Homo sapiens: one gene and its partners. The protein of the gene in region 1 purifies or fractionates together with the protein of each later gene. This does not show direct contact. Each region holds a gene or a part of one and is shown in the gene's direction. Other genes may lie near its edges. The genes, in order: ZFP41, NOTCH2, FBLN1 and LIMA1.

What was found.
Region 2: the proteins of ZFP41 (region 1) and NOTCH2 purify together in Homo sapiens (affinity purification with mass spectrometry; 3 studies listed by BioGRID and IntAct, with this or other methods). This does not show direct contact.
Region 3: the proteins of ZFP41 (region 1) and FBLN1 purify together in Homo sapiens (affinity purification with mass spectrometry; 3 studies listed by BioGRID and IntAct, with this or other methods). This does not show direct contact.
Region 4: the proteins of ZFP41 (region 1) and LIMA1 purify together in Homo sapiens (affinity purification with mass spectrometry; 3 studies listed by BioGRID and IntAct, with this or other methods). This does not show direct contact.

What each region holds. Positions count from the first base shown.
Region 1 is NC_000008.11:143,242,892-143,249,938, forward strand, and holds the start of ZFP41 (zinc finger protein 41 homolog), read left to right. Parts: upstream 1-4,047; 5' UTR 4,048-4,251; exon of another isoform or gene 4,252-4,858; intron 4,859-6,798; 5' UTR 6,799-6,952; coding exon 6,953-7,047. UniProt on the Homo sapiens protein: A putative DNA-binding regulatory protein associated with meiosis in spermatogenesis.
Region 2 is NC_000001.11:119,919,655-119,926,678, reverse strand, and holds part of NOTCH2 (neurogenic locus notch homolog protein 2 isoform 1 preproprotein), read left to right. Parts: intron 1-67; coding exon 68-180; intron 181-868; coding exon 869-1,374; intron 1,375-2,694; coding exon 2,695-3,042; intron 3,043-3,900; coding exon 3,901-4,043; intron 4,044-4,232; coding exon 4,233-4,443; intron 4,444-4,869; coding exon 4,870-4,966; intron 4,967-6,281; coding exon 6,282-6,450; intron 6,451-7,024. UniProt on the Homo sapiens protein: Functions as a receptor for membrane-bound ligands Jagged-1 (JAG1), Jagged-2 (JAG2) and Delta-1 (DLL1) to regulate cell-fate determination.
Region 3 is NC_000022.11:45,505,870-45,512,893, forward strand, and holds part of FBLN1 (fibulin-1 isoform D precursor), read left to right. Parts: intron 1-7,024. UniProt on the Homo sapiens protein: Incorporated into fibronectin-containing matrix fibers. May play a role in cell adhesion and migration along protein fibers within the extracellular matrix (ECM).
Region 4 is NC_000012.12:50,203,518-50,210,541, reverse strand, and holds part of LIMA1 (LIM domain and actin-binding protein 1), read left to right. Parts: intron 1-4,473; coding exon 4,474-4,558; intron 4,559-5,841; coding exon 5,842-5,990; intron 5,991-7,024. UniProt on the Homo sapiens protein: Actin-binding protein involved in actin cytoskeleton regulation and dynamics. Increases the number and size of actin stress fibers and inhibits membrane ruffling. Inhibits actin filament depolymerization.

The sequences.
Region 1 (7,047 bases):
AAAAATCAGGGCTTCCAGGCAGAAACATCAAATAACTTTCAGGAGCATGAGAATTAGATGGGCCTGAAACTCCTCAAAATCAATAAAAATGAACATAGCAACAACGAAGCAGCATTTTCAAAAATCTCAAGAAAAGGGAGAAAACAACGAACTGTGCAGCCATTCAAGCTTTCCTTCAAGGAATTACAGCTTCAAGAGAGCAGTTTTAAACTTGCCAGAGCTCAGGGGTCCTGCAACTATAGGCCCATCAGGAGGAACCTCCTAGATGGGCTTCCTCCAACCACAAGCTGCTTACGGGTCAGCCGTAAGACCCACGGGGGTGATACATTGAATGGTAGACCCAACATAGAAAGAGAAGTGCAGTCGAGAGGGGAAGAACCATATGTGCTGTGTGTGTTCTGACAAAGTTGAAATGGCATGACTTCAAAAAAAACACCAGGAAGAGGAGGAGGAGTGGGAGGAGGAGAAGGGGGGGAGGAGGAGGGGGAGGGGGAGGGGGATGAGGGGGAGGGGAGGAGGGGGAGGGGGAGGAAGAAAAGGGAAAAGCTCCCGGGTGGTTGTGCAGGCAGTAGGGAAAAGTGAAAGGGCACCATTCAATCCAACAGGCCAGACAGTAAACCACTCAGGAGGAAAGCAGTTCTCTGTCCCTCTCTAAGCTAAGAGACCGAAGTGTTTGTCTCCTGTCCTCAGTCCTCTTCTCTGGTGGCTGTCCCCTGCAGAGCAGACTGGGACCCCACTCACTAGCAATAGGACTCCCACATCGGAACATAGGACTGTGACCCAGAGGTGCCCAGGCAGCCATGAGAGGCAGCCCGCCACCCAGAACAAGAGGCCTGGGCTTCCGGGCAGCTCCAGCCTTTGCAGCACGCAGGCAGGGCACAAAACAGGGATGTGCGAGAGAAATGAGGAGCAGAGACATGGCAGAGCCTGGGGCCCCCAGCCCCTCTTCAGAGAGGCTGCCTCTGTGGGAAGCTCTGCAGGAAAGGGGTCCTCAGCCCTTGGAGCTTCTTTCCATATTTACAGGGTAGCTGGAGCGGGGGGGTCTGGTGACAATGGGAGATTCCGGGCCAGGGAAACAGCCTCTGCCCACATATCACATACCAATGGTGTTGGCACCAAATGGAGTCTCTGGTGGGCCGGCCCAGCCACCACCACGCCTGAAGGGACTGGAGGGGCCACCTGGCTCATTTAGAAGGCAAGGGGCTGTCTCTTTTGAGATAGGGGAAGGACACCTTTCTCCTTCTTCTGCTTTTGTTTTTTGTTTGTTTGCTTTTGTTTTTTTTTTTGAGATGGAGTCTCGCTTTGTCACCCAAGCTGAAGTGCAGTGGCATGATTTCAGCATCACTGCAACCTCTGCCTCCCAGGTTTAAGCAATTCTTTTGCCTCAGCCTCCCAGGTAGCCAGAACTACAGGCACGTACCACCACACCCGGCTAATTTTTGTATTTTTAGTAGAGACAGGTTTTCACCATGTTGGCCAGGCTGGTCTCGAAGTCCTGACCTCAAGCAATCCACCCACCTTGACCTCCCAAAGTGCTGGGGTTACAGGCATGAGCCACTGCGCCCACCCTGCCATTCTTATTCTCAGTCTTATTCTCTCTGTCCCAGCCCCATCAGTCATCAATTGCTCAATAAATATGGATTAGGCACCTGCTATGGGCTATGTGTTGGCCCCCGATAATACAAAGATGAAAAAGACAAGCCCTGACCGAGGGTCATGTGCAGCATGTAACCTGTATGGACAGCTACCCACGCAGCCTTGGCCTAAGGCTGGCAGGGGCGAGGCCGGGGCTGGCACAGAGGAGCTCGAACAGGTGGAGTCTTAAAAAGCAGGAAAGGGTCTGTCAGGCGGAGGCGGAGCGGGGGTGTTCAAGGCCCAGGGTTGAGGCATGCAGCCGATGCTGTGTGGCAGGGCAAGCACTTGCTGCTGAGTCTCCTGGAAGGGGAAAGGGTGGTGAGAGGGGCGGCCTGCAAGTCTGTGCAGGCCCCTTTGCAGCTGCTAAGGGGGCCCAGACCTCATCCTGCAGGACAGGCGTGAAGCTGGGAGGGCCACTGTGGGTTTGCCCGGTAAGTCAGTCCCTCCAGCTGCTGTAGGAGGGGTGGACAGGGGAGCCCAAATGAAGGCAGGGAGACCCCAGGGCAGGGCACAGAAGTAATGCTGGTGAGAGGAGATGGGGTTGCAGCCGGGACAGAGGAAGCAGGCTGGACAAGAGTGGGTGGTTTAAAACATTGGGAGGTAAAAGCAACAGGATGGGAGAGGGGGGTGGGACGAGGAGGGAGCAGAACTGCCTGGTTTTCAACACCTTGCTAAGTCCAGGAGGCAGTTGGAGAGAGGGCTGGGTGGGGGCAGGCAGTTCCTAGGGTGCCACGACACCAGCAGCACCTAAGATCTCCACTCATGCTCACTCAGTCCACACGACACGAGGGCCCAGCACACATCAGGCACCCAGAACAAGAACAGGTGGCTGCCCTCCAAGAGCTGATTTGCATGGGAGTGTGGGAGCGGGGGATAATTAATAATAAATATAATAAGGAAATCATATAGAAAGTGGAAATGGGAAGTGTTGGGGGGGCAGAATGCTGCAGATATCCTAAGGAGATGTGCCAGAGCCAGCCCAATGCCCATCCTTCCCTTGGCTACAGGCGGCACTTGTGACTTGAATCTGAGTAGAACTGGGCCGAGGGGGTGGCATGTCACCCACAATTAGGTTCTGTTCCACAGGACTCCATCTGGGGGTGGGGCTCTCCCACGGACCCTGGGGAAGCGGCCACCCTGTGAACCGCCCACCCTCCCACAGTAGGGACTGGCAGGCAGCCCCCGGGAGCTGAGAGCAGCTCCTGCCGGCCCTCAGTCCTACAGGCACCAGGACATGACTTCTGCCAGCAATCGCATGAGGTGGGAAGTGATCCTTCCCCAGTCCAGCCCCCAGATGAGAACACAGCGGCTGACCAGAGCTGAGGACCCAGCTAAGCCTGGCCTTCTGGCCCACAGAAGCCTTGAGATAATAGGCGGATGTCGTTTTAGGACACCCAATTTGCGGTACGTAGGGAACTAACACGCGGGGCTCTGGCGGGCCTGGCGGCTCAGTGCGATCTGGGCAGGCAGGAAGTGGAGTGAGCACAGCCAGCGGCTGGGAGCACATCCCGGAGGGGCTGCCTGCGGCGGGAGGAGCGGCAGGGGCCACGTGGTGGGGGACGGCTCGCCAGGGCGCGCACGCGGTGGCGGCGGCGGTGGAGGCGTTGCCCGCCTAGCTAGGGGCCCGCGGCCTGGAGAGGCGTCGGTTCTCCTTCCGCGCTGAAGGCGGAGACAGCGACTTCCCGTGGAGGCAAGCCGTGGGCGCCGCGGAGGCGGGGGCTGGGGGTCGGCGGAGGCGGGAGCTGGGGGTCGGCGGGGGCTGGGGGTTGGCGGGGAGCGTCCTCAGGGACAAGTCTCCCAGCACGCGGCCGCGACCTCCCCGTTGGGGGTCTGGAGCCAGGAGCCCACGCGCGTCGGATCCGGAGAGTCTGGTGGGCGCAGCCTACGTGACAGGGTCGGCTCGGGACCGAGCTGCTGGGGACTGGGCCTTGCGGGGCGGGGCCGCTGGGGGCGGGGCATGAGGGTGCCGGTTCGGGGCGGGGCTTTTTGGGGGCGGGACATGGGGCGGAGCCTGGGGGCGGAGCATGTGGGGAGGTGGCTGGGGAGGAACTTTCGGGGGCGGGACACGAGGGCGGAGCCTGAGGGGGCGGGGCATGAGGGGAAGCCGGCTCGGGAAGGAGCTTTCGGAGGCGGGGCCCGCTCGGGGAGGGACCTGATTTCGGGGGAGCCTTCGGGAGGGCGCCTGCCATAGACGACTGTAAAGGGGCGGGGTCAGCTCGGGGAGGACCCTGCGGGCGTGGCGGCAGTTATGGGTGAAGCCTGAGGGGGCGGGGCCTGATCGGGGCGGGGTCTTCGGGGGCGGAGTCGGCTGGGGATGGAGCCGCTCGGGCCGAGCCCTCCACCGCCCACCATCACCGAGTCCGGCCCAGGCTCCTAGCGCGGCCGCCGGAAGGGGCGGGTCAGCGGGCGGGCATTTCCTGCCGGTGCCTAGGGCCGACGGGGACGCTGGCACTGGTGGGGAGCTGTTGGGGGGTCCCGCATCTAGGGCTCTCCTTTCCTGCCTCCGGCCCCCGCGAGGGGCGCGCGCCTCTCCCCGCCCTCCAGCAGTCCTGGTAGGGCCCGGGCGCGTCCGCGCTCTGCAGCGGGAGGTCCTCGTCGCCTCTCGTCTCCAGCCAGGTACTCACTGGGCTCCTGCCTGCCGCCTCCGGCCCAGGACGCGCAGCGTCGGTATGGGCCCCGCCGCCTCCCCGCACCCCGGCGCTCCAGGGATGTGGCAAGACCCGGCTTTGAGCACCTCCCGGGCGCCGGCCCCGAGGCCGACCTAGCTCTGCACGTGGGCCGCGGGGCTCTGCCGTTGAAAGGAGAGCCTCTAACTAGGAGCACGCACGGGACCCTGGCGGGCCCCTCCGCCTGGCTCAGATGCCTGGCATCTCAGGCCTTGGCACAGCTAGCAGGCCCCTGGCAGGCCGTGGACCCAGCAGGCTGTTTTAGTGCAGATTGCCCCTGAATCTCAAGCCCACTAATGTTCCAGTCTCTCCATGAGACCCAGATCCCTGAAAGTAGTGGAGGGAGGCGCCAGGGTGAGTGAGGTTTTCTAGGCAGCCCTTACCGCCCACGGATACCCAGAGCTTCATATTACAAGTGAAGGGTCCTCCGCCCAGAGAGGCGACGGAGCTACGCTGGAGTTGCACGACAGAACCAGAACCCCAGTCTTTAGGGGTGTGGCAAGCGTGGGTTGCGCTGTTTGTAACTAGCTAATCACTCCTGTCTACAGGCCTGTGAGGTGAGGCCAAGAAAATCGCTATGGTCCAATCCGTTTTTGTTTTTTGCGTGTGGGGTTTTTTGTTTTGGTTTGGTTTGGTTTTTTTGTTTGAGACGGAGTCTTGTTCTGTCGCCAGGCAGGAGTGCACTGGCGCGACCTTTGCTCACTGCAACTTCTATCTCCTGGGTTCAGGCAATTCCCCTCCCTCAGCCTCCTGAGTAGCTAGGACTACAGGCACGTGCCACCACGCCCAGCTAATTTTTTGTGTTTTGGTAGGGACAGGGTTTCACCATGTTGGCCAGGATGGTCTCGATCTCCTGACCTCGTGATCCGCCCACCTCGGCCTCCCAAAGTGCTGGGATTACAGGCATGAGCCACCGCGCCCGGCCAGTCCACTCTGCTTTTAAGAAATATTTTATTTCTCAGGGTGGGCAGCGTGTAGAGAAGTGAGTCATTCCAGTCTCTGCCGGTTAGCACCTGCCAGCCTAAGTTGAGTCGACAGAGCCGTTATGGAGAATGTTCCCTGACCACAGTATGTGACTAGGATTTGGAGATAAAAAAGATACGATCCTCGCCTTCAGGAGACCCTGTCGCATAAGGAGACTGCCATGTCAGTGACCAGCCACACGTGCAGTGACAAGTGTCTGGAAGAAGGAACAGTGCTGTACAGCATGGAGGACCCCCACACAGGCCTCGGGCAGCAGCCGTTAGGCTCAGTGGGTTCACAAACCACCCCCCGCCCCGCCGTGGAGTGGAGTCTGCAGAGAGCCAGATAGGTTCCCGCCATGCCCTGGAGAGCTGCCGTTTCTCCAGCTCCGCCCTGCCCATGAGGCAAACAGCTGGTCGACTGGTCTTCTGTGCTGGTTCTTGGTTCTCACCTTTGTTTCCTACCAGAGCTGGACCCCGGCCTCAAACTCCAGCCAGCTTGGGCTGTGATCCTCTATCCTGGGCACCAGGGCCCACCCCCTGCCCACCCCAGCAGAGATGCTGCTTTATGCCTGCATCCTCCCTCAGCACACGTGGCCTTCATCTTCAGTTCTGGCGCCCACCTGATCTGCCTCCTCCCACACGCCACCTCTAGATAGAGCCCTAGAAAGTGATGTTGGCCTGAAACTGAGTCACATTCATCTAAACATTTTCCTGTAGAAAAGACCAGACCCTCCTTGTTGAGATAGGAAATCTGTAGTGAGTTTATGTGTTACCTGCACTCATGAGGGAGAGGAGGGAAGGCCACCAACCTCCTCTCAACAAAGAGAATTCAAAGTATTTATGTGTTGAGTTGTGTCACTTACGACATGCATATCAGCTCCACTTTCTACCTAGGGTCAACCCTGGCCTCAAACTCCAGCCTGGTTGACCAAGAACTAATACAAAGGGTACGGAATATTATTTCTTAGAATATGACTGGGCATGGTGGCTCCCACCTGTAGTCCCAGCTACTCAGGAAGCTGAGGTGGGAAGGATGTGACATGAGGGGTTCTGCTGGCTGCTGTGGTCCATGGCAGGGGGGCAGCCCTGGTTTCATGAACTCAGAACCCAGCCTCTGGGGGATGGAAGCACTCTCCACTGGGCACGTGTGGTCCCTGCAGCCTGTAGCTTCAAAGCACGGTGACTGGTTCCAAGCCCAGTATGGTGGAGAAGGAGACTACGGCAGGAACCAGGGGGATTCGGGGGTGGAGGAGGGAAGCCGCAGGGCAGTTGGTGGGTACATCAGATCCTGTGGACATGGTGTGCAGACCCGGAACCCCGGCAGAGGAGCAAGGATTCCTTGGTGAGCAACTGATCCCTTCATCGAGACAAGGAAAGGCCGGGAGAGAGTCAGGTGGGGCTCCGGGGAGATCAGCAATGCCGTTTGAGACACTCTTGGGGGAACACATGGGAAGGGAGGGGCCGCACCTGAATCCCACATCCCCTGAAAGGCAAACCTTTAATCTGAGGTTCATGTTCTTGCTTCTCCCCAGCACCAAGAGGATGGTGGCCCTTGGCCTCCTGGTGCAGAGCATCAGTCCCACGCTGGGAGTGTGGAGAGGTGCGTGGGAAGCAAGCCATTGAGGAAGTGGGGCCAACAGAGAGGTCAGCAGCCCCTTAGCCCTCACGCTTCCAAGGAACAGAATGATGGAGAAGCCTGCAGGCAGAAAAAAGAAGACGCCGACCCCAAGGGAGGAGGCAGACGTGCAGAAGAGTGCGCTCAGAGAGGAGAAGGTGTCCGG
Region 2 (7,024 bases), on another chromosome or scaffold:
GTTTGTTGAGTAACTTGCAGTGACTACTTCTGCCTTTTAAAACCTTTTTTATTTTTTATTTTCTGAGGCCGGCACTGTGAAACCTTCGTCGATGTGTGTCCCCAGATGCCCTGCCTGAATGGAGGGACTTGTGCTGTGGCCAGTAACATGCCTGATGGTTTCATTTGCCGTTGTCCCCCGGTAAGTGCCCTGTTGCTCATCTAAGAAGGGGCATTGTCTCTTCCATACAATCTGTGAACAGAACTGAGATTAAACCTGGTTTTACCAATCTTCGAAATGGGAAGATTTCTCAATTTTAGCTCTTTCAGAGGAAAGTGCTTGGGTTTTTCCATTTAAAGCTGTTTACAAGTGACAAAACAAAACAAAAACAAATAAAAGCTGTTTAGACACTCCCAGAAACAGTGAGCTTCCCAATCCATGACTGTCAGTCTTAAGAAAAACTAAGGGAAAACCACAAAAAGTGGTGGAGTGCCCCCTTGAAAATAGGGCTGATGTGTGGGGCTTCTTGGCCCCAGGCTGGAGGGTAATCTCACTGCCCAGATTGGGCCAGAGTTGGTGGAAATGCTGCTCTTACATTCTTTAGCAGGAACCATTTGGAAGCAAGTTGTCTCTTAAAGTAGAGGGAAGCTCAATTTTAGCTATTTGCTATACCCATTCTTTTATCACTGCCAGAGGTTGAAACCTTCCCAAAACAAGAGATCCCTATGCCTCGGGAGATACCAAAAGGAAACCTGTCTAGTAACCTTGGCTTGGGCTGAACGGGAAGTACAGAAGGGAGTGAGATGTGGAGGTTTTCTAGAAACCTCAAACTTCCAATATGACTGTTTTCCTACCAATGCCATTTTTATTTCCTCACTGATTTCCACAGGGATTTTCCGGGGCAAGGTGCCAGAGCAGCTGTGGACAAGTGAAATGTAGGAAGGGGGAGCAGTGTGTGCACACCGCCTCTGGACCCCGCTGCTTCTGCCCCAGTCCCCGGGACTGCGAGTCAGGCTGTGCCAGTAGCCCCTGCCAGCACGGGGGCAGCTGCCACCCTCAGCGCCAGCCTCCTTATTACTCCTGCCAGTGTGCCCCACCATTCTCGGGTAGCCGCTGTGAACTCTACACGGCACCCCCCAGCACCCCTCCTGCCACCTGTCTGAGCCAGTATTGTGCCGACAAAGCTCGGGATGGCGTCTGTGATGAGGCCTGCAACAGCCATGCCTGCCAGTGGGATGGGGGTGACTGTTCTCTCACCATGGAGAACCCCTGGGCCAACTGCTCCTCCCCACTTCCCTGCTGGGATTATATCAACAACCAGTGTGATGAGCTGTGCAACACGGTCGAGTGCCTGTTTGACAACTTTGAATGCCAGGGGAACAGCAAGACATGCAAGTAAGGGCTTCACGTTTTCCAGAACTGAAGGGGACTGTCACTAACACACTTCAGTTTCTCGTTCTTGCTCCTAACCACTCCAGTGCTTCAGCCTAAGCTGCCTCTGCTTTTCAGATGGTGCCAGCCTTGTCCCATCGCACACTGCCCTGTGCTCTCCCTTGCTGACAATGGGCCAGGAATGCTCATTGCATAATGACCCTCTCTCTCTGCCTATCTTTGCCTTCTCACCTGCTGCCTTCGTGACCTCCTGGGGGATATAACTTTTGGAAGTGGTGTTTCCCACTTCAAGCAGCCTCTCACATAACCTGCCTGCAGGATGGATGGAAAGGTCTGTATCTCTCTCTTCACCCCATTCCTTTCCCTAAGACTGTTTTTCCCCATCTAGATTTATCAGGAAGCATGAATTAGATTAAGTCTGTGAACCCTCCCGGTCTTAATTGTATAGGATGCTCTATGGTTTACTTAGGAACTTTCCTATTAACTAGCCATTCCATATAATTTAATCCCAATTAATTCTCAGCAACTCACGAGGCATAGGTATTACTAACATTCTTTCATAGGTGAGAGAACTTAGGCCCAAGGGTTAAAGAACTTGCCAAAGCAAGTTGTTTCTTTGACTCCTAATCTTCTGATTGAGCTAGCATGAAAAGTTGTACCAAATAGTATAAATATCAAGGGGTAGGGGATGAGGAGAGGAGAGTATAGATGGAATAGTTTGTACATCATTTAGGTTTGGGGGTTCTAATTCCTTTTCCAAATATTGAAAGAGCCTGTACAAGTAATATCTGGTGTGCTATAAGGACATACCCATCTGCCTTTACCTTCTGTAGTTGGGATTCACTCTTGAAAGGGAAAGAAATGGGTCATGTTAATATTGTTCTCTGTATGGCAACTCTCAATGGTTCAGGGCCTTGTATCAAGTTTCTAGAGGCATCTTTCACTTCCTAAAGCCCGTTGTTACCTTACTGGGGGCAATGGATTTCTCTAAAGTAGAGGAAGCATGAACCAGGTTGACTTTTGTTTCAGATATGCAGCTTTGTTTGAAAACCTGACTTAACAGGCTTGTAAACTGCCTGGGAGCCCCTAAGCTCCTGCAGCATAGTGAGTACAATGTTCTTCATTTAGGAAGTACTCAACAAGGATGAGTGGCATAGGCATCAGGGATAGGAGATGCAAAGAAGGTTTTGTGGGGCATTTGGGTCCTGGGTGTGGGCCACAGAAAATGGGTAGGAAAATCCACAGTAGTTCCAAATGAAAAAGCAAATAGAGCTCCAGTCTAATCTGAGCTCTTTTGCCTGTTCTCTGCTTCCCCTTACCTAGGTATGACAAATACTGTGCAGACCACTTCAAAGACAACCACTGTGACCAGGGGTGCAACAGTGAGGAGTGTGGTTGGGATGGGCTGGACTGTGCTGCTGACCAACCTGAGAACCTGGCAGAAGGTACCCTGGTTATTGTGGTATTGATGCCACCTGAACAACTGCTCCAGGATGCTCGCAGCTTCTTGCGGGCACTGGGTACCCTGCTCCACACCAACCTGCGCATTAAGCGGGACTCCCAGGGGGAACTCATGGTGTACCCCTATTATGGTGAGAAGTCAGCTGCTATGAAGAAACAGAGGATGACACGCAGATCCCTTCCTGGTGAACAAGAACAGGAGGTGGCTGGGTAGGTGTTTGGTTTCTGAACTTCAAGGCTAATTTTATGAAGCCTAGCACTTTGACATATAGCACAAGTCATAACTCAACCTATAGAAATGCAAAGATCAGAAAAATAGAATGGCCCACCACTTAAGATAAACCCGTTACCCCAGTACTTACGTTTAAATGTAAAGATATGCCTTCGTCTTGGCTGAAAAGTGGGCAGGGGTACACAGGAGGCAGAATGTCTGGAAGGCCTCCTCAGATGCCAGAATCCATAACCTTTTGCCAGAGTTGCCTCAAATCCCTTTATTAGTGACATTCCTTTTTACATTAATCATTGCCTTATTGTTAAGGCCCTTCTTTAGAATATATGTCTCTTTGACACAGGTAATGATCTTCAGTTGCTCTGTCATTCACACCTCACTCTTTGTTGGTATATTGTCAAACTTTCAACCCTCCAGCTAGCTGAGATACCAATGCAGAGACAAAGGAAAATAAGGACTAAAAACACACAGGGATGTATGTTTAGAGTAGCACCAAGTACCACTGAGTAGGTATGAAAGAGTGGAAGAAGACCACTGAAACCTTCGGGAGGAAAGCACAGCTTCTCACTTTGTCATGCATTGCCTCAGCCAGAAGGCTTTGGTCAGCCAGACTAAGGAAGGTGGGACATCCTCTATGTGGGAATTAGTGTTTAAGATCTCAAGGGACAGTATTCTAATTCCTGAGATATGTCTTAAGGCAGCATCCCAGAGGTGGGGACCTGATGCTGAAGGGGAGGAAGGGAGGCTCCTGTCACCCTTTATGACATGTTCTGCCTGACCTGCACTCTTCTGTTTTACCCCCATCTCTCCTCCTCCGCTTCTCCCTTGGCATCCCACAGCTCTAAAGTCTTTCTGGAAATTGACAACCGCCAGTGTGTTCAAGACTCAGACCACTGCTTCAAGAACACGGATGCAGCAGCAGCTCTCCTGGCCTCTCACGCCATACAGGGGACCCTGTCATACCCTCTTGTGTCTGTCGTCAGTGAGTGGCACTGGTGTAAAGGGGAAAGGTGGCGGGGGAAGAGTGTCAATTGGGGGAACAATTTTCATTATGTAGCCCTCTATTTTTTCAGGACTGTTGAGGTCAAAGTTGCCCTCTAAATGAATCTAATGCTGACATTGAGAGGTTAATGTTTTATTCAGCACTTTCCCTGTCTCTGTGGACTTTCAGGTGAATCCCTGACTCCAGAACGCACTCAGCTCCTCTATCTCCTTGCTGTTGCTGTTGTCATCATTCTGTTTATTATTCTGCTGGGGGTAATCATGGCAAAACGAAAGCGTAAGCATGGCTCTCTCTGGCTGCCTGAAGGTTTCACTCTTCGCCGAGATGCAAGCAATCACAAGCGTCGTGAGCCAGTGGGACAGGATGCTGTGGGGCTGAAGTAAGAGGCATTGCCAATAAGCCACTATTCACAGTATAAGTAGGGATGACTAGAAAAGCATATCTTGTTGAATCATGATTTTAAATTCTAAGCTCTGGGCATTTACTCACATTGACCATGATTCTAAATGCCTTGTGAGTGACTGAAACCACAGTCAGAGCGTGGGTGCATCTATTCTGTGTATATTATCACAATGCCGCCCAGCTTCTGTGTTGAGGTGCCCTTTTGTTGTAAGCTCACGATCAATGGGAAGGGAAAGGATGAATGCCAAGGGAATGTCACCAAAAATACTGCCCATCTTCTCTGGGCCAAGACCCTGCAAAATTGTAATATAGCCACGGGAGTGTGTCATGGTGGAAAGTGTTGAAAACCACTGTATTAGTTTATGACTGCCATTCTTATTTTTTCTTTTTATAATCATATTAGAAATCTCTCAGTGCAAGTCTCAGAAGCTAACCTAATTGGTACTGGAACAAGTGAACACTGGGTCGATGATGAAGGGCCCCAGCCAAAGAAAGTAAAGGTGAGGTGGCCATGGTAGAACCACCATTGTCAGCCATTATCTGGTTACATTTCAAATTTCTGTCCTTTAGCTCCAGAGTGTCCTGAATGGGAGTAAAGAGTGATAGTCTTGATGTCTTACCCAGACAATAACTATCCTAGGTTCTCCTAAACAGCAGGAATCCTTAGGACGTAAATGACCTTGGGTTACCTATATATGCTCTTCAAGAATAACTCTTTAAAAATACTAAGCACATCTGTTTCCTTTAGTGTTATGCTGGCAGTAGTCAAGTCAGGAATGGTGTGTGTAGATGGCAATTCCTTCATGGCCACATCTCTTCCTTATCCTTTATGGGCACTTCTTCTATAAGAGAAGATGAAATTAAGCAGTGGAAGAAAGCCAGTTATCATTGACATTGGCAAAATGAAAGCCAGTGATCATGGCAAAACGTTGACATTGGAGGCTCCATACCTTGAGCCCAGGAAACTAAAGCCATATAAAAGCAAGTGGTAGATTGGGCTGAGACTGACATGAAAAAGCAGACCATCCATCCACAGCTGTGCATGGCTGGGAGCTGGTGGAGCATGATGGTTAAGAAGATTGCTTTAGTTAATATCAGAACTGGATTCAAATCCAAAACTCTGCCGCTTAGTAGCTGGCAAGTTACTTAACCTCTTTGTAATTATCCTTCCTTGTAAAATGCGGATAATAATAACCCTTTCCTCTGTGAGTTGTTGTGTTGGCATATGTGCCTTATCTACTTTCCTGTCATGTACTAGGTATTCAGTAAAGGGTAGCTGCTTTTAAATTATCATGATTATTATTATTGAATAGTCTTTCCTGAGTGCTTACTACATGTTGGGTGCTATGTTGAGTACAAGGAAACAACCTTGAACAAGGCTTATTTTCCCTTCTTGAGAAGCTTACAGCCTTGTGGTGGAGATGGCCATGTAGTGCTGTGTAAGCATTTAACACATGATCAGTTAAGCAGAGGTAAGCAGAGTATGCTTTTTAGGGCCAACAAGAAGAATTAAAGTTTACTTTCTAGTGGAGGGTAGGAAAAGTGAGAATTGGGTGCTCTGGAGATCTAAAGGCTAAAGCCTAGAGTTTGGGATTGGGGGAGGGAGTTGTCTAGATGATGCAGGAAAGGTAAGCAGGAGCCACATCACGAGAGCAGTGGGAAGCCAAGGCTGAGGTAATCCTCTGGAGGGGTGGAGGAGTAGGAAGAGAGAAAACAATGGGAGATAAGCAGCGGTGGTGGAGGCTCTGGACACCTTCTGATTAGCAGTTTCTGGTGGTGGCCAGATTGATAGGGAGCATTGTTTTCACCTTTCAGGCTGAAGATGAGGCCTTACTCTCAGAAGAAGATGACCCCATTGATCGACGGCCATGGACACAGCAGCACCTTGAAGCTGCAGACATCCGTAGGACACCATCGCTGGCTCTCACCCCTCCTCAGGCAGAGCAGGAGGTGGATGTGTTAGATGTGAATGTCCGTGGCCCAGGTCAGCACCGGGCCTCTTCCCCTCTTCACTGGGCTGTGTCTGCCCATGGTTCCACATTGTTGTCCCTGTGTTTGCCCTGTCCAGTCATAAACCCCTTCCCAATTTCACAGACTCTAAATCAGCTCGAGGAAATGAATGCTTAAGGAATGTAGCCACAAAGAAATTATCAGCTCAGAAAGGGAAGGATTTCACATTGCTTCATGTACAGTGTGTTGAGACTAAACAGGCTGATAAAATGGGTTAGATTGTAGTGGGATAGAAAAATAATATCCCAAAGCAGAGGATAGTTAGTATCTTATGCATGTATTAATTGTTCTATTAATATTAGATATTTTTAAATGTCCAATTAAAATAACAGCACTTAAACTTGAACAGAAAAACGTGTTTAGAGAAGAGCCCCCAGCTTAAAAAGACTTGTACTTTCCCATTATTCTTTACAGAAATGATACTATCAGAGGAAAAGGTGGCAAATGTGAAACTAATAACCAGTTACTACAAGAAGTACAGGGAATTCTTTGCCCCTAAGAATAACTTTAGTCAAATAGAGCTGTTTCAACCATAGGGTTAACTACCT
Region 3 (7,024 bases), on another chromosome or scaffold:
GAAGCGATTCTCCTGCTTCAGCCTCCCCAGCAGCTGGGATTGCAGGCGCCCATCACGCCCAGCTAATTTTTGTACTTTTAGTAGAGATGGGGTTTCACCATCTTGGCCAGGCTAGTCTCGAACTCCTGACCTCAGGTGATCCACCTACCTCGGCCTCCCAAAGTGCTGGAATTACAGGTGTGAGCCACCGTGCCGGCTGGCAGCCCTGTTATTAATGTTAGCTATTATTCCTGTTGTCCCCTTCTCTAGGAAGTGTTGGCACCAGGAGCCTTCGCAGCCCTTGGGGGCTCCCTGGCGGCTCCTTGGAGGAGATGAGGCTTGATGTGAGGGGAGCGCGGGAAGAGCGCAATTCTGCCAATACCCCAGAATTGTTTTCCCCAAGATGCCTCTGCACATTCTACTACTACTGAATTTCCCAGCCAGGCGCTGAGCAGAAGGCCCCATGGGGCTATAGGACTGGTAGTCGTCAGTGCCAAACCCGTGTCAGGAAAGGTGGTGTTCTTAGCCATTCAGTCATTCATTCACTAAGGGACAGCTCAGTGCCAGACACTGCTCTATAACTTGTGGATGTGGCAGGAAAGGAGAGAGACCCAGTTTTTCCCCCTCATGCAACTAGGAGATCCAGAAAAATGAACTGAGCCCTACTGGCAGAGTCAGGGAAGACTTCCCGGAGGAAGCGGCATGCAAACTGGGAACCTAAGGAGGAAAAGGCAGTGGCTAAGTCTGTGGGTAGGGCTGGGAGGATGGGGGAAAGGGTGTTCCTGGCAGGGGAAATGGCAGGGCCAAATACCTGGAAGGAAGAGAAAACACGAGACTTCCAGGGAAACCCCCTCCTTCTACCCACTTCCAGTTCCTTCCAGTTCCACCCCCTCCTCACCACTGGGGGAGACTGTGCTGTCTAGAGACTTCTCCAGCAGCTTCCCTGACCTGGTGAGACTTTAAGCCCGGGCTCTGAGCACTGGGCACCTGGTCAGGGCCGCCTTCCAGGTGAAGTTTATTAGAACAGTTCTAAGAGGGCATGTAGTTATTTTGCCAGCATATTTTATACAACAAGATTTTCCTTTTGCAGAATAGCAAATCATAACAATTTGATGAATGAATCCTTTCGTAGGCCCCATATGGTTCCAGTTTCCTTGTGATGATCTCACATGTGGCCCTATAAGTAAACAGGGTGGGAGGGGGGAACCACTGTGTCAACTTCCCTGGGATAGGAGACCCCCTCAGGCTGGAGGGGAGCTCAGGACTGGCTAAGTCATCTGCCACAAGTCACCCAGCGAGGAGCGGGGCTGGGGCTGGGCCTAGAGCTGGGCTGGGCCCCACCTCCTTTAACCCCACAGTGGTCCTAACTAGAGGCTGGGGTGGGAGGGAGCGAGGCACCAGTCGCCATAGCTTCCTACAGGTTATTTGCGGGTTACTACACTGTGCGGAGCCAACATGAGAAGGGGGTTAGGAAGCTGTGTGTTGGTCCCAATTCTGAAAGTGTCTGGAGAGATCTTGATGACACCCACAAACTCTCTGCCTCTGTTTCCTTCACTATAAGATGTGAGTGTCCTCTGGGTAATTATTATAGGTGAAATGCTTTACATTTAGTAACCAATGTCGTCATCTCAGCAGCCCTACGAAATAGGTGATCCAGTGTTGTTTTGAACCTATTTTTATTTTTTATTATTATTTTTGAGACGGGGTCTCACTCTGCCGGCCAGGCTGGAGGGCAGTAGTGTGATCTCGGCTCACTGTAACCTCCACCTCCTGTATTCAAACCATTCTCCTGCCTCAGTCTCCTGAGTAGCTGCGACTACAGGCATGCGCCACCACACCTGGCTAATTTTTGTATTTTTAGTAGAGATGTAGTTTCACCATGTTGGCCAGACTGGTCTTGAACTCCTGACCTCAAGTGATCCACCTGTCTCGGCCTCCCAAAGTGTTGGGATTACAGGCGTGAGCCACTGCGCCTGGCCCTGTTTTTCATTTTGGATCCTGTTACCCACTGGAGTGAAAAGGTCCTGTGAGTTTTGCTACCTAGGTATGAAGCCCGGCTTCTTGTTTTGGCCTAGAACTCCTCTATGGACCTGCACAGTGCCATTTCTGAGAGTCACTGATGCGTGTGATAGGTTGAGGATGGAAATCCAACACCTGTGCACCCAGCATGGTCTCCCCACAGCACGGGGACTCGAGCACCTTCCTGCCCCACCCCTGCCCCAGTTCACCTGTGTTACCTAGCTATACCCTCACCCTAGCCCTGCAAAGGAGGTGCTGTCATTGTCCCCCTCATCAATGAGGGGACATGGAGGCCCAGAGAGTCCAGGTAGCAAGACTGTGGGTGCATAGCTGCTAAGTGACAGCAGCAGGACTTGAGCTTGGGCAGCTTGGCCCTGACGTCATACCCCTCACCAGCACACTGGACAGCCTCGCGTATCTTTTTTTTTGAGACGGAGTCTTGCACTGTCTGGGGTGTGATCTTGGCTCACTGCAACCTCTGCCTCCCAGGTTCAAGCAATCCTCCTGCCTCAGCCTCCCAAGTAGCTGGGATTACAGGTGCCCGCCACCACGCCTGGCTAATTTTTTGTATTCTTAGTAGAGACGGGGTTTCACTATGTTGGCCAGAGTGGTCTCTAACTCCTGACCTCGTGATCTGCTCACCTTGGCCTCCCAAAGTGCTGGAATTACAGGCGTGAGCCACCGCGCCCAGCCAGCCTCACGCACCTTTAGAAGACTTGAATCTTTAAGTCTAGTTCAGGGGGGGATGCCTGTTTCCTTTGGAGTGTGATGGTGGGGTGTGTATGAGCTTTACAGTCAGAGCTGGATCTGAAGCCTGCCTCTGCAGAGGCTGCATGGCCTCGGGCAACTTGGTGATTCTCTCTTTGCCCCCACTTTATAGAATACCTAGGATCATGTGAGATCATTTGTGCGTTCATTCATTCACGGACATTTATTGAATGACTGCTTAGGGCAGGCATGGGGGCAGGAGGCAGAATGAGACAGTGTCTGGCTCAGACTCATGGCACTAAGTACAGAGTTAATTATTTGTGCTAAGTGCTGGGAAGCTCAGAGTACAAAGAGACCATGCAAGAAAGAAAACATATTTGTCCCATGTGCATGCGTGTATATGTGCATATGTGTGTGCATTGGCGGTAGTTAGGGAGGACTTCCTGGAGGAAGGGACCTTTGAGCTGGTGTGGCATGAACAAGCTGGCCTGAGGAGAGCAAGCGTCCTGGGACCCTCCAGCCTTTGAAGCTCCAGGTTCCAAATGCCAGGTGCAGAGGATGCATGACAGGTGGCCAGAGGGGTGAGAGGAACACCAGGGGAGATGCGTCCTGGAAGCCCAGGAGGCCCTTGGAGCAGGGTGGGATGTTGCAGAAGGATGAGGATGCCCCTCTGTGCACTGGGCTGATGTAGGAAGTTGCTGCCGGGGCCAGAGCTGCCTGGAGGGAACTGTGGGGAGAATGCTTCTCGCCTTCCCAGAGAGGTACCTTCTGCTCCTTCTCTCTTGCTGCCTCCTCCCGGCTGGTTCACCATCCAAGACCCCTGTCATCTCCATGACAGATGCTGGGAACAGGCTCAGCAGTGGACACAGTCAGGTCTTGTGTTGGGGATGGGGCCAGGAGCCCTAAGAGCAGGCTCCAGTTCGCCCTGCTTCCTCCTGCAGAGGCCAGGTGGTCTTGAAGAGGGGACACGAGTCTGTCCTCATCCTGGAACTGTAAGGGATGCAGGGACATAGGCCAATCTGGCTGGACCCCTGGTGGCTTCCCAGACAACATAGTAAAACTCCGTCTCTACTAAAAATACAAAAAATTAGCCAGGCGTGGTGGTAGGCGCCTGTAATCCCAGCTACTCAGGAGGGGCAGGGTGCAGGTGGGGGTTGGGTGGAGTCGCCCAGTCCTGTTTGGTTGGAACTTTCCATCAGGGTCTCTGTGGTTGACATCTTGTTGCATTTCAGGCTTTTCGGTTCCTTGGTTCTGGACACCACGGAGGCCACTCCAACTCTTTGCTGTAGCTTTAGACAATGCTGTGGGGCAGGTGGGGTGGGGGCATGATCCTTTTGTGTGGTGAGTCCGGGAGGCACACAGGATGAAGCCTCAAGCTCCCATTCACTTTTAAAAACTCCTGACGCCCTCAGCTGCCTCTGAGTTTTTGAGCTTGAGCAGAGGAAATCAAGGAAATTGAGGCTGGCTTCTGATCACATGCCTTTACTTCATCCCCAGCTATTCACGGAGCTTTGCCAACTTAAAATATCCTCATTTGCCCGATGAGGATATTAAAATAAAAAACAGACACCCATTCAACCACCATCTCATATCGTCACCACTTCACAGAGGTAGGGGACATTTTAATGCCCCGGATTTTGGAAGGACGCGGTCTCACAATAAAAGACAGTATTGTAGATGGAATCGGGCCGGCTTTGTAGAGGTCCCTGGATCCTGCTTTGCTTTCACCCTATTTTGTTGCAACCCAGTGGAAATTTTGCCAGAGCAATGCCCTTACACAGGGTGGGATTGGGGAAGCCTGCTCTTAACTGCAGGCCAAATCCTCCATTCAGTTTATAAATGAAAAAACTGAGGCCCGGACTTGCTCCGGGTGGGAAAACTCTCAACCATGAGATCAGAAGCAGACTCCAGGCCTCCCGGTTCCCAGCCCCCAGTCTCCCCTCTGTGACAGTCTGCTTGCTCAGCAACCTGGGAATTAAGATCCTCGTGGCTCACAGGCTGCTGGGGATGGGATCAGGCATTGCCCAAAGCTTCTGCGATGTTTACAGCTAGCAGGCTGACATTCTGGAAGCTTCCACCCAAGGAGTGGTACAGAATCTCTCTGAGCATCTGTAGTCTTAGAAAGAGCACGTGGCCATATCCTTCCTGGGTGTCCAGGGCATGGTCCCCGCAGGCCATGTGACCTGTGTTTCTCTGCATGCCTTGGAACATGGGGCATGCCGCTGATCTACACCATAATCTTTATGGAGGTTTAACTCACCTGGAAAAAATTTAGTTTTAGCAGCTGTCCCAGGCAACAAACGGTATCTGAGGCCTGTGAACTGAGCCAGCTCCATCCATCTGCACCAGTTACTCCGGCAGGCATGTGTCTCTCCTGAAGAGAGGTGGTGGATGTGGTGGCGTGTTGGCCATCGGGCACCGTGTCAGCCTGGAGGAGTGTGTGGTTCCTTTGAAAAAGAATGTTCTCCCAATCCTGGTGTGATAACTTTTCCTTTTGTTTAATTTTGAAGCTTCTGTTTTTTCCTGTGGTCAGTGTGCTAATGTAAGCACTTTTCCTGGATTATCTCATCAATCTTCCCCCATTTTTTTTTTTTTTGAGACAGAGTTTCGCTCTTGTTGCCCAGGCTAGAGTGCAATGGCATGATCTCAGCTCACTGCAACCTCTGCCTCCTGGGTTCAAGTGATTCTCCTGCCTCAGCCTCCCGAGTAGCTGGGATTACAGGCATACGTCACCATGCCTGGTTAATTTTGTATTTTTAGTAGAGACGGGCTTTCTCCATGTTGGTCAGGCTGGTCTCAAACTCCCAACCTCAGGTGATCCACCTGCCTCGGCCTCTCAAAGTGCTGGGATTACAGGCATGAGCCACCATGCCTGGCTTTTTTTTTTTTTTTAGACAGTCTCACTCTGTCACCCAGGATGGAGTACAGTGGCACGATCTTGGCTCACTGCAACCTCTGCCTCCCGGGTTCAAGTGATTCTCTCACCTCAGCCTCCTGAGTAGCTGGGATTTCAGGTGCCCGCCACCATGCCCAGCTAATTTTTGTATTTTTAGTGGAGACTGGGTTTTACCATGTTGGCCAGGCTGGTCTCGAACTCCTGGACTGAAGTGATGTCTGCCCACTTCAGCCTCCCAAAGTGCTGAGATTACACCCATGAGCCACTGCTCCCGGCCTCTTCCCCCATTTTTACAGATGAAGGAAGTGAGCCTCCTTGAGTCTTAGTAAGGGAGGGAGCTGGATTCAAGGCTGAGCAGTTTTAACCCGCAGCGTTGCCTTCCCTGGGAACATTCGAGTTGAAGGTTAACGAGATTTTGCAAGAGTTTGCTCTTGGTTTATATCTAATATTATGCTTTGGATCTAACTCACATGGTCAGATGCAGGGGTCAGATTGAGACTGGTTGATTGAAACTCCTCCGAAACAACAGGAAATGATCTGGGAGAGAAGATTCCAGGTCCCCTGAGGCCCTGCTTCTCTCTTGATCCCCCACAGCCCAGTGTCGAGTTACCAGCGAGTGCCTGTTCTGCTTGGGTGGGTGTCCAGTGTGGTACTGGTCAGAGGTAATTTTTGGATCTCAGAGCTGCTCACAGCTGTTGGCGGTCTGGGATGGAAGAAGCAGGCGTGGCTTCGGTTGGCCCACATTATCCTCCTGACTCACAGTGTTCCAGGGCTGCTCAGCTGCCCTAGGGTTTGTGTACAAATGGCCTTGATTTGACACCCTTCTGAAGGTGGGGGGCCTGACTGATCAGGCAGTTGGTTGGATGCTGTTGACCCCCGCAGAACTCTTGGTACCTATGAGGCGTGGAGTTGGCGTGGGGGATCTGTTAGCCCCAGTCCCCTTTTTGCCCCCACCCCAGCCTGGCCGAGAGTCCTGGGCAGGCACTGAGAAGGCAACACATGGGGTAGGACTTGATGAGCAGGTGGATAGGACAGTGAGGTGGGAGGTGCCTCTGTGGGCCTCAGATGGTCCCCAGCCTGTGTGATGGGGCAGCGAAGCTCAGGACACCTGGTGTTTGGATATCCACAGGTGACCGGATCCCCAGGCAAATGAGCAGCTGGAAGTCCCTGCAGGGATGCGGGAGGCACAGCCAGGGTGGGGCTGGACCCCAGGCCCTTCCCCACTCCCATCGCCCCACCCTCACAGGACACACGGGGGAGCTGTGATCCTCAGGGTGTTCTTTTGTTTTTAGTTTTTTTGTTTTGAGACAGGGTCTCCCCCTGTCCCCCAGGCTGGAGTGTAGTGGTGCAGTCGTGGCCCACTGCAAGCTTGAACTCCTGGGCTCAAGCGATCCTCCCACCTCTGCCTTCCAAAGTGCTAGG
Region 4 (7,024 bases), on another chromosome or scaffold:
CATGTAACACATATTCTTGGAATTGTGCTTGAACTTTGACAGAAAGCAAATATCTGTATTAAGAACACAGAACCCGTTTCCTTTTGGTTGTTCTTTTCTTTTTTTCTTTTTTTTTTTTTTTTTGGAAATGGGGTCTTGCTCTGTTGCCCAGGCTGGAGTGCAGTAATCTTGGCCCACTGCAACCTCCACCTCCCTGGTTCAAGCGATTCTCCTGCCTCAGCCTCCCCAGTAGCTAGGATTACAGGCACGTGCCACCATGCTCAGCTAATTTTTGTATTTTTAGTAGAGATGGGGTTTCGCCATGTGGGCGAGGCTGGTCTCAAACTCCTGACCTCAAGTGATCCACCTGCCTCGGCCTCCCAAAGTGCTAGGATTACAGGTGTGAGCCACTGCACCCGGCCCCTTTTGGTTTTTCAAAAGAAGTTTATCAGTAGGCTTTCTCCCATTTTGAGTTTTGAAAATTCTAATTTTTGTAGTGGTTATCTTCCAGTGCAGCAGCATTTGGAATAAATATGTGGAATTTTCTTTATTTTAATGATCAGCAAATAAGAAGTATGTTGAAAACAAAATAAAAAGGTGGGCCAGGCGCGGTGGCTTACGCCTGTCATCCCAGCACTTTGGGAGGCCAAGGAGGGCAGATCATTTGAGGTCAGGAGTTTCAGACCAGCTTGACCAACATGGTGAAACCCCAACTCTACCAAAAACTCAAATAATTAGGTGTGGTAGCAGACGCCTGTAATCCCAGCTACTCTGGAGGCTGAGACAGGAGAATTGTGTGAGCTTAGGAGGTGGGGGTTGCAGTGAGCTGAGATCACACCACTGTATTCCAGCCTGGGTGACAGAGTAAGACTCTGTCTCAAAATAAATAAATAAATAAAAATTAAAAATGTGGATTGAGGGTATCCTGCCAGACATATCTTTTCCTTTTGACCAAGATCTTCATTATCTTTTTTCTTTTTTTTTTTTTTTTTTTTGAGATGGAGTCTCGCTCTGTCACCTAGCCTGGAGAGCAGTGGCACAATTTCTGCTCACTGCAACCTCCATCTCTGAAGTTCAAGTGATTCTCAACCTCAGCCTCCTGAGTAGCTGAGATTACAGGTGCGCACCGCCACCCCAGCTAATTTTTGTATATTTAGTAGAGACAGGGTTTCACAATGTTGGCCAGGCTGGCCTCGAACTCTTGACCTCAAGAGATCCACCCACCTTGGCCTCCCAAAGTGCTGGGATTACAGGTGTGAGCCACCGCACCCAACCACTTCATTTTCAGATAGCGGCTGCTCCTAGAGCAAGAGTATGTTGAGCTGTGTGAGTCATATGGATGTATAATAATTCATGAAAGTATGCCTGACCTGTGTGTGATGTAGCACGGATAGTGTTGTTCCAGCTTGTTTTAGTTTTTATTAAAAATAGACCCAATCAGGCCGGATGCAGTGGCCCACACCTGTAATCCCAGCACCTTGGGAGGCCGAGGCTCCTTGAGCCCAAGAGTTTGAGACCAGCCTGGGCAACGTGGTGAGACCCTGTCTCTACTGTAAAAAAAAAAAAAAAAGAAAGAAAGAAAAAATAGACTTAAATCAACAATATAAATTGCAAAGCTGACTGGATATAAATTATTATTATTACTTTTTGAGCAGGGTCTTACTCATCACCCAGGCTGGAATGCAGTAGTGCGGTCACGGCTCACTGTATTCTTTTTTGTAGAGATGGAGTCTTCCTATGTTGCCCAGGCTAGTCTTGAACTCCTAGGCTCAAAGGATCCTCCTGGCTCAGCCTCCCAAAGTGTTGGGATTACAGGCATGAACCACCAAACCCAGCAAGGAGACAAATTATATATACACACACACACATATGTAATATGTATATAATATATTTTTATTTTTATTATTTCTTTTGAGACAGGGTCACACTCTGTTGCCCAGGCTGGAGTGCAGTGGCATGATCTTGGCTCACTGCAACATACACCTCCCAGGCTCAAGCAATTTTCCTACTGCAGCCTTCTGAGTACCTGGGACTACAGGCGCATGCCATAATGCCCAGCTAACTTTTGGTTTTTTTTGAGACGGAGTCTTGCTTTGTCACCCAGGCTGGAGTGCAGTGGCCTGATCTCTGCTCACTGCAACCTCCGCCTCCTGGGTTCAAGCGATTCTCCTGCTTCAGCCTCCTGAGTAGCTGGGATTACAGGTGCGGGCCACCACGCCTGGCTAATTTTTTTGCATTTTTAGTAGAGACGGGGTTTCACCATGTTGGTCAGGCTGGTCTCGAACTCCTGACCTCGTGATCCTTCTGCCTCGGCCTCCCAAAGTGCTGGGATTACAGGCGTGAGCCACCGTGCCCAGTCTAACTTTTGTATCTTTTTTGTAGAGACAAGGTTTTGCCATGCTGCCCAAGCTGGTCTCAAACTCCTGGGCTCAAGTGATCCACCTGTCTCAGCCTCCCAAAGTGCTAGGATTATAAGCTTGAGCCACTGTGCCTAGCCTTGGGAGATATATTAAATATATATTGAATTTGAAAGAAACTATTCTTACTGGTGTGGTATAAACAGACCAATCCTTGGCTCTGATTTCTGATGTGGTATGTTTTCTGTCTCCAAGGAGGGGGTATAAAAAATATGTAAAAGTGATAGTTCACTTTCTTTTCTTTTTTTTTTTTTTTGAGACAGGGTCTCACTCTGTTTCTCAGGCTGGAGTGCAGTGGAGCGATCTCTGCTCCCTGCAACCTCTGCCCCCCTGGTTCAAGCAATCCTCCCACCTCAGCCTCCCAAGTAGCTGGGACCGCAGGTGCATGTCACCACACCTGGCTAATTTTTTGTATTTTTAGTAGAGACAGGGTCTCACCATGTTGCCCAGTCTGGTCTCAAATTCCTGAGCTCCAGCAATCTGCCCGCCTTGGCCTCCCAAAATGGTGGTTTTACAGGTGTGAGCCACCATGCCCAGTCTCACTTCCTCAAACTTTACAGTAAAGTTGATTAGTCCATTGAACTTAAAGATTTAGTAACTATTTACTAATGTTAAATTCAAAAGGGTGCTAAGTGTTTTATTCTTATCTCCTGTCATACTGGATTTCAGATATCTTTTTTAACCTCAAGTTGTCTGGAAATAAACTGAGATTTGAATGATAGGATCTGATGTAAGGATCTCATTATAAGCTGAATAAACATGACATACTCCCTGTGTACTATGTCTGGGAATATTCTTTGACACTACAGTCTTAAAAATTATAATTTGTAACTTTCATTAAAGATCTACCTTAGATATGACAGAGATAAATGTAGTAATTTAATGGAATCACAAAACACTTCATTAAAAAAAATCTTTGTTGGCCAGGCGCAGTGGCTCAAGCTTGTAATCACAGCACTTTGGGAGGCCGAGGTGGGCGGATCACCTGAGGTCAGGAGTTCGAGACCAGCCTGGCCAACATGGTGAAACCCTGTCTCTACTAAAAATATAAAAATTAGCTGAGCATGGTGGCAGGCGCCTGTAATCCCAGCTACTCAGGAGGCTGAGGCAGGAGAATCACTTGAACCTGGGAGGCGGAGGCTGCAGTGAGCCAAGATCACATCACTATACTCCAGCCTGGGTGACGGAGTGAGACTCTGTCTCAAAAAAAAAAAATCTGTGTCATCCACTTTTCTGTAAGTCCTGGAAATATATGGACAAAAAGGCATGGTCTCTGCCCTTAGTGAGCTTACAGTGCAGTAGAGGGACAGTCACCCAACAGTTTGACCAGGTACCTTGAGAACAGAGGAAAGATTACCTAAATTTATGTTGGCAAGGTACTCAGACTTCATAGTGCTTACACTGAGTCTTTGAAGGAACAGGCATTTGTAAGGCAACAGAAGGACAAAGGAGGCTGGCTCGGTAGGGACCAGATCTAGAACAGGACTTCTGTGACTTACTAAGCACTTCGAGTTTAATTTCAGGAATGAGTAGGAATGCTGAAAGAATTTTGAAAAGGAGGGTAAAATAGATTTATATTTTTGGATAATTACTTTGTATTATTGGGGATAATGGTAGCATCATAGAGACTGGATTGGAAGATAATGAAGAACCAGTTAAAGAGGTATAATGCAGTAGTCCAGGGGAAAGATGATGAAGACATGAACTAAGGCAGCAATAGCAGAAATAACATGAGACGGAGAAAGGAAACAGCAGATTCTGCATCAGCACTTGGCAGTTTAGAAGGACATGTCATTGTCATCTGGTATGTGAGGATTCCCCTCCAATAAGTGTTACAAAGCTTGCTGGTTAGGAAGCCATCTTTAGCAGAGAATATTACCTATATAGGGTTACTTATTTTTCCCTGGGCACCTGTGAATGTGTAGTGCTTGATATTTGTAATTTAAAAAAAATTCTATAGAATATAAAATATAAAATCAAATCTGGATTTTATTTATAAAGAAGGTTTGCAAGTTGAACCTTGCGTCAAGATTTCCCATTGTTTCTGCAAAACTTATCGTTGGGTTTCGTTTTCCAGATTCTCCGGGCCCAAAGCCGAAGTGCAAGTGGAAGGAAGATCTCTGAAAACAGCTATTCTCTAGATGACCTGGAAATAGGCCCAGGTAAGCAGAGAGTTCCATGTGTATGAGGTCCTTTAGGAAGTACTCACTAGTAGTAACATCTTTTGGACTCGAAGCCAATGCTTTTAAAGGAAGAGTGGCACAAATTAAAAGGAAGTCTGCCTATTAGATGCAAGCCATTCTCAAATCTCATTGCTCTCGATAAATAGCTTTTTTTTTTTTTTTTTTTTTGAGACGGAAGTTGACGTGCTCCCAAAGTGCTGGGATTACAGGCATGAGCCGTCATGCCCGGCTGCTTTTTTCATATTTTTAATCCACCCTTGTTAGTGGTAACCTATGGTAAGCAAAGGGTACTTTGAGGAGCTATAAGTAAAGTGCTACGATCAGTTTTGCCTCCAGTCATCTGGGGTTTGAGGGCTTCAGTAGATGGGCTGTGTCCCCTATCAGGTTTGGTTACCCTGTATTACCAGTGATAACATAACACTTTGAGAGTGGAATTATGTTTTAAAGGGGACATATACAGGCACTTCACAAAAGAAAAAATTAGTAAAAACAGGAAAACATCAGCTACCTAGTCATCAAAGAAATGTAAATTAAAAAGCATTGAGATCTCTTCTTTTTCATGTTAAATTAGCCAGAATTTTAAAATACGAGCCCAGGCATGGTGGCTCAGACCTATAATCTCAGCACTTAGGGAGGCTGAGACAGGAGGACCACTTAAATCCAGGAGTTTGAGACCAGCCTGGGCAACATAGACCTATCTCTACAGAAAAAAAAAAAAAAAGCCCAGCGTGGTGGTGCATCCTTGAAGTCACTGCTACTTGGGAAACTGAGGTGGTTGGATCATTTGAGCCCAAGACTTCAAAGCTGCAGTGAGCTATGATTGTACCACTGCCCCATACTCTAGCCTGGGTGACAGAGTGAGACCCTGTCTCAAAAAATAAAATATGCAATCCTCAATTATGGTAAGGTTCTTTTAATGCTAAGAAAGTGAGTGAATATTACTTTATAAATGACAATTATATTCCTGATTTTCTTCTTCGTGCTTTTAACAGAAGATATTGGCCATTAGATAAAAATAACCCAAAATTTAGAATTTTGAAATTATTTGAATCACTTTTATCTTCTAATAAAACATGTTGGCCAGTCACGGTGGTTTACACCTATAATTCCAGCGCTTTGGGAGGCTGAGGCGGGAGGATATCTTGAGCTCAGGAGTTCGAGGCTGTAGTGAGCTATGATCGTGCCACTGCACTTCAGCCTGGGTGATAGAGTGAGACCCCATCTCAGAAATAAAATAAAACATGTTATTTGGATGCTTCCAGGTCAGTTGTCATCTTCTACATTTGACTCGGAGAAAAATGAGAGTAGACGAAATCTGGAACTTCCACGCCTCTCAGAAACCTCTATAAAGGATCGAATGGCCAAGTACCAGGCAGCTGTGTCCAAACAAAGCAGCTCAACCAACTATACAGTATGTGTTCTGCATCATTCATTCATTCATTCATTCCATCATCCAGCAGATGGTCACTGAGTACTGGAATTAGGAAATGTCACCAGACCCTTGTATCTGAGCCCTGGTCCCCTAGCTGTTCTCTTTTCACATGAACCCTACCCTCGCTGGATTTGCAGTTCTTACCATGGTCTAATCCTGACTTTGCTTTCTTAGTCCTGGTTCCCACCCCACTCACTTTTTTTGTGATGTTACCAGTGAGTATCATTGAGAGTTTCCCTGGCTCTTCTACTTAATCTTTGTGTTGTTAAAGAAGTAGTATTTTATTAGTTTTAATATAACTCTTATTTTATCTTGGTTGTTGAGGGAAGAAGGAAGAAGACTGAAGAGCTTATTTTGGCTTTTGAGGGAAGAAAGAAGAAGACTGGAGAGAAATATCAGCTGTGTTCATTAACGAGGGTTTTTTTTGTGATTTTTTACTGAGATATAACTCACATAATATAAAATCACCATTTTAAAGTATACAATCTTGTGATACTTAGCATATTCACAAGGTTGTACAACCATTACCACTGTTTAATTCCAGAACCTTTCCATCACCCTGAAAAGAAACTTCATACCTGTGTAGTCACTCCCAACTTCCCCTGCTCTCATCCCCTGGCAACCACTTAGCTACTTCCTGTCTTTATGTATCTGCCTATTTTGGAAATTTCATATGAAGGAGTCATACAGTAGATCTTCTACTTAATCTTTAATCCTTACGATGTACTGTTTTCCTAAAGAAGTAGAATAGTAGATAAGGAAAAGGGAGAGATCACAAGAAGGTGACGTGCTCAGTAAGCATGAAAATTTTGATATTCAGCTGGGTGTGATGGCTCACACCTGTAATCCCAGCACTTTGGGAGGCCGAGGTGGGCAGATTGCCTGAGGTCAGGAGTTCAAGACCAGCTTGGCTAACGTGGTGAAACCCCATCTCTACTAAAAATACAAAAATTAGCCAGCATGGTGGCAGGCACCTGTAATCCCAGCTACTTGGGAGGCTGAGGCAGGAGAAT